Regions from separate parts of the Homo sapiens genome. Here regions 1 and 3 are each linked to region 2. The links come from fine-mapping of genetic effects on gene expression. A gene starts in region 2. Each other region holds a variant in brackets. All regions are shown on one strand. Distances are between the middles of the regions. Region 1 overlaps FBRSL1 (fibrosin like 1). Region 2 holds the start of FBRSL1 (fibrosin like 1). Region 3 holds the start of MIR6763 (microRNA 6763).

The links. PIP is the estimated chance that this variant, and not a neighbour inherited with it, causes the effect.
Region 1: its variant is the best candidate, but not a certain one, in a credible set for the expression of FBRSL1 in whole blood (TOPMed, PIP 0.76).
Region 3: its variant is the best candidate, but not a certain one, in a credible set for the expression of FBRSL1 in whole blood (INTERVAL, PIP 0.58).

What each region holds. Positions count from the first base shown.
Region 1 is chr12:132,567,761-132,570,260 of GRCh38, reverse strand. FBRSL1 (fibrosin like 1) reads right to left here. Exons shown (of 19, transcript NM_001367871.1): 7 at 20-335. Among named protein-coding and RNA genes, the nearest start is that of MIR6763, 13 kb to the left of the region's middle. The variant C/G (reference allele first, on the strand shown) is at 1,083.
Region 2 is chr12:132,488,513-132,491,342 of GRCh38, reverse strand. FBRSL1 (fibrosin like 1) reads right to left here and starts at 1,192. Exons shown (of 19, transcript NM_001367871.1): 1 at 482-1,192. The coding sequence starts at 772. RefSeq lists enhancers at 1-104, 2,102-2,231 and silencers at 1,262-1,711, 1,842-1,911.
Region 3 is chr12:132,580,241-132,582,740 of GRCh38, reverse strand. FBRSL1 (fibrosin like 1) reads right to left here. Exons shown (of 19, transcript NM_001367871.1): 16 at 1,225-1,302; 17 at 917-1,000; 18 at 475-679. It overlaps MIR6763 (microRNA 6763), which reads right to left and starts at 744; the gene lies at 680-744. The variant AGGT/T (reference allele first, on the strand shown) is at 1,489.

The DNA.
Region 1 (2,500 bases), 79 kb before region 2:
TCCCCCGCGGGGACCCCACCTGAGGCCGTGCAGGCCGTTGGCTGCCGCCTGGCTGTGGCCCGCGAAGGCGCCCAGGGATGCAGGCACGTGTGTCGGGAGCAGGCCGCGGGGCTGCGGGGGTGGCGGCTGCGGGGTGTGGCGGTGCGGGGCGGGGGGTTCCTTCTTCACCAAGGGATTGGCGCGGGAGCCGGGCGGGGGCCCCGGGCAGGGCGCGGCATGGGGCGCGGGGCTGGCAGTGGGCAGGAAGCTCTCGGCGCTGAGCTCGCGGCTGCGCTCCAGGCCTGACACCTTGGGCACCGGCCCGGCCTTGGCCTCCGACTTCTCAAGCGCTGGGCCTGCAGAGAGAGGGTGGCTGCGTTCAGACCAGCAGGGCCTCGTCCCTGCCCCTCCTGTGGCCCAGGGAGCCCTGGTACGTGCCCGGTGCCCAGGCTATGTCTGGGCTCCGGCTATGCCCCCATTTCAGATGAGGAGGCAGGCACGGAGGCCACACAGCTAGCTGGATCTCACCCGAGGCTCCAGGCCCCGCCCGGCGGAGGGAGCTGGCTTGGGAGCCTGGGCCGTGGCCAGGGGTGGGGGTGGGTAGCCCACCTGCCCGAAGACGCATCACTGGCAGGGACAGGACAGGCCCTGCAAGAGTCAGTCCCTGGACAGGGGCTGCTATGACCTCATTTAACAGACAAAACCAAGATACATCAAGGACTTGGCCCAAGAGGGGAGCTGGATTTGAACACGGGAGCTAGGGCCTGTGTACCTAGGCCTCATGTTCACGGCCCCTGGATGTGCCCTCAGCCCAGGGCATGGGTCTGCCCCACCCCAACAGCAGCGCCCACAGCTGTAACCACCTTTTCTTTCTGGAACCCCCTGGTGGAAGGCTTGACCACTTCCTGGAAACTTGGGCAGGGACTGGGTGGGAGGCTTCCCCCTACTGTGACTGCCCGTCACCCGCCACCCTCAGCCCTGCTCCCTGGCCACCCTTCTGCCCACCTAGGCACGTCCCCCGCAGGTCCTGTGGGCCCCTCTGAGCCCCTGGGGCCTGCCCCCCCCACCCCCGCACACCCCAAACCCTCCTTTTCAGGCCCCTT[C/G]GGGCAGGTCTCAGATCAAGTCCCCAGGAGTCAGGAGAGGGCAGCGTCCATGTGGTGGAGCTCCTGTTGCCTGGGGTCAGGAGCTGCCACGGTCAGGGGGCCAGTTTCGCAGGAGAAACAAAACAACGTTCCACGTGCCGCATGCCTCCTGTTCACGTCCCCGGCAGACCCTGCTTCCTTCCTGAGGCCTTGGGACAGTGAGCCATGGCCCATGGGGACAGCTGCGGCCGTCCCTGCCCCATGTGACCATGGGGCCTGGTCTTCTGGGGCCTCAAGGAGTTCCTCCCAGGTGAAAACAGGCAGCAGGAAGCAGCCCCATCTTCACTCTTCACCTGGGGCCAGGCCTTCCACAGCAGCCACCACCCAGCGACCACAGAGAGGCTGCGCGGAGGACACAGGAGAGAGGGAGCCCACGGGCACTATCTCCACCGGCTTTCCCAGCTCCCTGGGTCAGCCCCACGGGACCTCTCCTCCTCTCTCCCACATCTCCAAGCCAGCCTTGCATATAGTAAGAGCTGTGATCAGGATGGAAAGAGGCTTGGGCCGCACAGACCTGGACTAGACCCCACGTGCGGGGCCTCCTGTGCCCTTCTAGCACCTCCAGCCCTCACTGGGACATTGTCCGTCCAGATGCGGCAGCAGCCGCGGCAGTGAGCTGAGTATTCAGCAGCCCCGCGTGACACCGTCTGCGAAGCCAGCTGCCTCTCCTACCGGGGCCCGTCCCATGCACGCCCCTTCTGACACCACCCCATCTGCGCCTGCTTTGCTGTGATGCTCTGATGTGAACAGGCTTCCAACTTGAAGGCAGGTGAAGGCCATGCCTGCTGAAGGGCAGTAGGGCCCATCCTTGCCGGCATTGGCAGGGCCTGTCCTGTCCAATCACATCCGGATGAAGCCGTCCCAGCAAAAGGGTGGTTCCAGCTGGAAACCCAGGGAGGCAGGAGCCGAGACCCCGTGGCCCTGCCGGAGATGCTGCCCGCCTAGGCCTTGGTGTGGGAATCCCAGGATCCCAGCGCCAGGGAGGCCCTAAGAAGACGCTGGGGCTATCCCCTCTGGAGAGGGTTGCTGGCCCGTGGACACCCCGCCCCACAGCTCACAGCCACAGGTTACGAAGGCCCCTAAGACGCCGGGGCTACCCCCTCTGGAGAGGGTTGCTGGCCTGTAGACACCCTGTCCCATAGCTCACAGCCACAGGTTTCGAAGGCCTGGCCTGGAACAGCAATCCAGGCCCCTCCACTGCACCACAGAGGCGCGCAGGCAGCAGAGCCAGGGAAGTGAGTCTCAGTCCCGTTTCTCTTTAACTCAGCAGCCACAGGTGATTGTGGTGCTCGTGGCAGGTGGCCCTTCAGTACCGAGCATCTGACCCCACGAACCTGGGGAGGGCCTGAGAGCACACATTCCTAACGGTTCCACTCTGG
Region 2 (2,830 bases):
GTCACCAAGAGGGGTCTTGAGATTAACCCTCCTTCTCCCCTTCTCAGCAGAGCCCTCGAAGGGAGGAGGGAACGGGATGGCCCGCGGAGTATCCATTTTATCACCACCTCCCTAAGATCCAGCACTGCTCCCTAGCACGTCCTGAACCAGGCAGAGCGATATGCTGGCCACAGAAACACAACTGATAAAAGGCCGACGGTGCTGTCAGACAGCCCCCAATTTCGAAGCGTAGATTTTTTTGCCTCTGCAACTTAAAACGTCCCCAAACCCACCCGACGCTGCTGGGTCTTCCAGATGCGACGGTCTGGGCGAGCGGTGGGCACCCAGGGTCCCTGGAACGGGTACCAAGTGGCCGGGGCTTCCCTCAGGGCTGCCCACGGCGCGGGCGGTCGCAAGCCCAGGGGTCCCGGGATCGCCCGACGCGTCAACTCCGGGCCCCGTTCTCGCCTCAACGCCTGCGAAGCCGCACCCGTCCACCTACCTCCAGGGCCTCCAGGGTGCTGAAGCTGGCGATGGCGAAGCCGTCGATGACCTCCTCCTCCTGCGAGCTGGACTCGCGGCGGCGGCGGCGCGGGGGACGCGCGGTGCGGGGCGCGGGGGCGGCGCCTCGGGGGGGCGCGCCGCGGAGGCCCGCGTTCTCCTTGCCGGGGCTGGGCTCGGGCTCGTCGCCCGACGACGGACTCTGGGCGCGGGCGTCGCGGGCGGCCTCCCGGCGCCGGCCACGGTCCCGCTGCGCGCGCGAGCGCCGGCTCGGGCGGACCTTGGCCTCCATGGCCGCGCGTGCGCCCCGTCGGGCCGGTGACCTTGACGCCCCGCGCCTGGCTCGCAGCAGGCGGGCTCCCTCGGCTACGCGGCGCCGCCGGGCTGAGTGTGCGCCGCGCGGGCTCGGGCCCTGGGCGGCGGCGGGCGGCGGGCCGGGCCGGGCATGCCGGGCGCGGGGGGCGGCTCAGCCCCGGGCCCGGCGCGGCCTGGGACCCCCGGCGCGGGCGGCTGGGCGCATCGGCGGGGGCGGGCCCGGCGCTCAGCGGCCCTCGGCCGCCCCCCCGGGGGCGCGCCCCATGCGCGCGGCGCGGCGATCGGGCCGAGCGGGCGGGGCCGGGCGGGCGCGGCAGGCGGCAGGCGGGAGGCGGCCGGGCTCCTGGGCACCGGGCTCGTGAGGCGGCGGCGGCGCCCCGAACAGATAACAACTGACGCACTTCCGCCCGGCTGCGCTCGCCAGAGGAAGTGAGGGCCGCCGCGGGCGCCCGCGCGCCCCGCCCCGACCACGCCCCTGCCCCGCCCCGCTCATAAGGCTCCGCCCCCACCCCGCACACGCGGCCCGCCCCGCTCACAAGGCTCCGGCCCCTCCCCGCCCCATTCACGCAGGCCCCGCCCCCCGCAGGCTCCGCCCCCTCCCCGACCCGCTCACGCAGGCCCCGGCCCCGCCCCTCCCGGGCGCTCCCGCTAATTCAGGCCCCGCCCCACCCGCAGGTGCCCGCCCTTCGACCTCGCCCCCTAGCCGCGCCCCTCCCCGGCGCCCCGACCTCCGCTGCAGCCGGCGGTGATCCGCTCGGCTCCTTCCTGGGAGGGCGCTGGGATGCCGCGGCCCCTCCGTGGGCACCTGCGGGCGGCGCTCTCCAAGCGGGAGGCGGGGGCAGCGCCGCCCTCCTCTGCGGGACTGGGGTCCCCGGCCGCGGGCGGCTTCCGAGGAGGACGAGGGGCCTCCGGTCTCGCGGAACCGAAGTCCTGCCCTCGGCGAGCGTGGAAGGGACGGGGAAGGGGCGGGGAGGACCGGGGGAGGGTCCTCGGCCAGGCGGTGCCCCCTCCCCGCGTCCCCGCGGACCCTCCCAGGCCTCCTAGGATGCGGGAGGGGTCTGTCCGCGTCCCCGCCCCGCGCCACGTGCCCCCAAGTCCCACAAGAAGGCGGCTCCCGCCACCGAGACCCCCGGGAACGCGCCCAGCGAGGCGGGGGCTGCTGCCAGACACGGAGCGCAGTGTGGAGGGCGGCGCGGGCAGGAAGCGCACGGAGGCGGCTGCGGTTGCGAGGCAGGCGCGGGGCGAACTTCCTCCTCCACCCCCAGGACAGGCCGAGCTCGGAGGGGCCCGCCTGGTGGGGTTTTCTGAGCCCAGGGGCCCCTTGCGCGTGGGCACTGGAGTCATTGATTCATGCAGCGCGTATTTGCCAGATGCCTCCTGTGTCCAGGCTCTGTTGGTGACCCCGCAGCGGCTGAGATAGACTACCCTCTTAGAAGTGGGAGAGAGACCCTGAACACAGGGCCAAATAGAATATCAGCCAAGGATAATCTGAAGAAAATCGAACGGGGAGGTGTCACAGAGAGTGGGCATTGGGTGGTCCAGAGGGCCTCCCCGAGGAGTGACGACTCCGAGCCCCAGCAGTCATGGGCACCCTGTTTCAGGTCGGGGCTACACCCCTGCACAGGCCCTCGGAGAAGAATGGTGGTTTGCTGGAGGGCGGAGGGGAGGGTGCCCAAGACAGTGGTGGGACCCTGCCCTCGGTTGCCCTTAGTGGGAACGGGTCCTCGCCCACTCTGCGGGGTCCACTTTACCCTGCCTCTGGGAGAGCCTACTGGCGGCCTCTTGTGCAGGGCAGGAAGGGTGTGGTCCAGGCACCACTGGCTGTTTGCTGGGCTGAGGCAGTTGGGAAAGTAGCTCACTGGGGTGGGGGGACTTCCTGTTCACCCAGCCTCCTCCAGTCCACCCAGCCCGCTCTCTGGTTCCCTGTCAAAGCCTCCCCAGGGTGGGGGCAGGGTCCCCCTCCCCCTCTTCCCATTCCGGGTTTTGTTAAACCGTGGTTTCACCCTCCAGCATCCTCCCTTTTGATTTTTAAAAG
Region 3 (2,500 bases), 92 kb before region 2:
GCGACTTCGGCTCCCCACGGGCCCCTCCCTGTTAGGACAGGGGGGCCTCCCGGCAGCCGCACCCCCGAACTCCTCCCTCAAACTCCGTGGGTCAGGGCGCGGCCACCTGGAGGTCTCCCGGATGGCAGGTGTGGGTGCCTGTGGTGGGGTCTTCACCCTCCTCATCCTTCCTAGCCCCAGGGCCCAGGCTTCACTCCCCACCGCAGGGAGGAGTCGCCGGGGAGCAGAGCTTTGGCCCCCGTACCCCGGGGCTCAGCAGAGCTGGACAGACTGTGAGTGCGCAGCAGTGGGGCGAGGAGGGTGAGAGGGAATGGGGGAGGGGGAACGGGGAAGGGGAACAGGGGGAGGGGGAACGGTGAGGGAGAGGAAACGGGGAGAAGAGGGAACGGGGGAGGGGGAACCGGGGATGACGGGAGGGGGGAAAGAACGGGGTAGGGGTGTGTGGTGGGGATACGGAACAAGAGGGCCACTCACCGTTCCTGCTCCTCCTTGCCATTGTCCGGCTCTCGGTCATGGTTGGTCAGGGCTGACACCCGCTCCGCGTCCACGGACTTGGGCCACGGGGGCGGAGCCGGGAAGGAGGGCGGTGCCCGGTGCAGTCGGTTCCAGGCCTCATGGGGGCTGGGCAGGCCGTGCACGGAGGAGCCCTCCTTGGGGGCAAAGATGCTGCCACCGGGAGCTGGGGGCAGAGGCCGGGGAGCATGAGGTTGGGTCTGTCTGCTCCCCAGCCACTCCCCAGGAGAACCCGGTAGGGGTTTTAGAAGGGTCCCAGGCTGACACTGAGAAGGGGGTGCCCCAAGGAGGCCCAGCCCAGAGAGGAGGGAGGTCAGCCAGGCATCGGGGTTCCTGCAGAGGACACAGGCATGGGGGAGGGGCGCGGGCATCGGGGGAGGGGGGCACAGGCTGGGTCACTCACCCAGTGCATGGCTGCCCAGGCCCCCAAAGGCGTGGCTGCTCAGGCTGCCCAGGCCCCCAAAGGTGCTCGGTCTGCTGAAAGGGTCTGTGGGGGCAACCGCGGGACCCAGAGGTCTGTGAGGCGTGGGCTGCGGCTCCCACCTGGCCCAGTGGGGGCTGCTGTAGAGGCTTTGGGCCTGGTGGGTACTGCCTGCATGACCCAAGGGGCTCCCTGGGGCTCGGGGCCACCTTCCCGCCCACCTAATTCCCCCGCCACAAGGCTGCTGAGGAACCAGCCAGGCTGCGTGGGCTGAATTCAGAGACACCCACCTGTCAGGGGGCCAGTGGGCAGGAAGCTGCCAGGATGGGCTGAGGGTCCAAATGGGTTGGAGGCAGGATGGGCGGCACCTGGGGGGGGCAGCCAGGTTTGACAGAAGCCAGGAGAGAGCACCAGGGCCTCCCATCTGCAGCTCTGTTCACAGGGAGCACCCCAATTTCCTCTGTGAACCTTCACCTCCCATTCTCTCGCATGCCCTGAGGGGTGAAGCGTGTCCAGTCAGAGTAAGAGGTGGAATCTACCCCACAATTCGGAGG[AGGT/T]TTGACTTGGAGCCGCAGTGGCAGCCATCCTGGGACCCCAAGGGGGGCAGGGAGGGAGGTGCTGAGTGCGATGCAACCCTCGGAGCAAAGGGGCTGCAACTTGGGCAGAGACAAAGTCCAAGTAACATGCACCTTGATCGGACCACTCCTGAAGCCTTTATCTCAGAGCTTTCACCTGGGAGCTGATAGATGGTCCTCACTTCTTAATGTGGTGCTGGGCCTCAGGCCTGGATGGACACGGTTCTGTCTTGGAGGCTGCACATGGCAGCCCCTTGTGGCATTCCTGGGCACAGGCCCAGCCCACAGCACCACGTCAACATCAGCCCTGGCCCCCCAACAACCCTTGGAGAGCAACCGTGTGGGGCCTGGGCCCGGGCCCTGGGAGGGGCTGCTGCAGGGGATTCAGTGCTGTTGGTCAGGGGCCGTCCTCCACATGGGTCCAGAGAGCAGGTTTCTGGTAAAGACCAGCAGGGCGTCATCTTTAGGTTACTCCGACTCCCTCCCAGCCCTAATCTTAGGGACCTCAAAGATGGGGTGCTCATGCCTCCCATGTAGGACGCGGCAAGTTGTATTCAGAGCTTCTGGTCTCCACTGAGCTGTGGCATGAAAGCTGATGCCACTCTTCTAAACTAGAGAGGAAGACAGCCTGCCCCATGCTACGAAAACACAGCTTGTCAAAGCGTGTGCAGGAGGAGATGGAGAGTACACTGCCTCAAATGCCCGCACTGGGAGAGGCTGAGGAATTAATATTCTCAACCACCAGATCAAGCTAGACAGGGCCAGAAAAGTGAGCGACACACAGGGAAACACACAGAGAAGGCAGCGAGGTCAGAGCTGCTCCTTTAAAAATACTGGTGAAATTGGCCGGGCGCAGTGGCTCACGCCTGTAATCCCAGCACTTTGGGAGGCCGAGGCAGGAGGATCATCTGAGGTCAGGAGTTTGAGACCAGCCTGGCCAACATGGTGAAACCATGTCTCTACTAAAAATACAAAAATTAGCCAGGTGTAG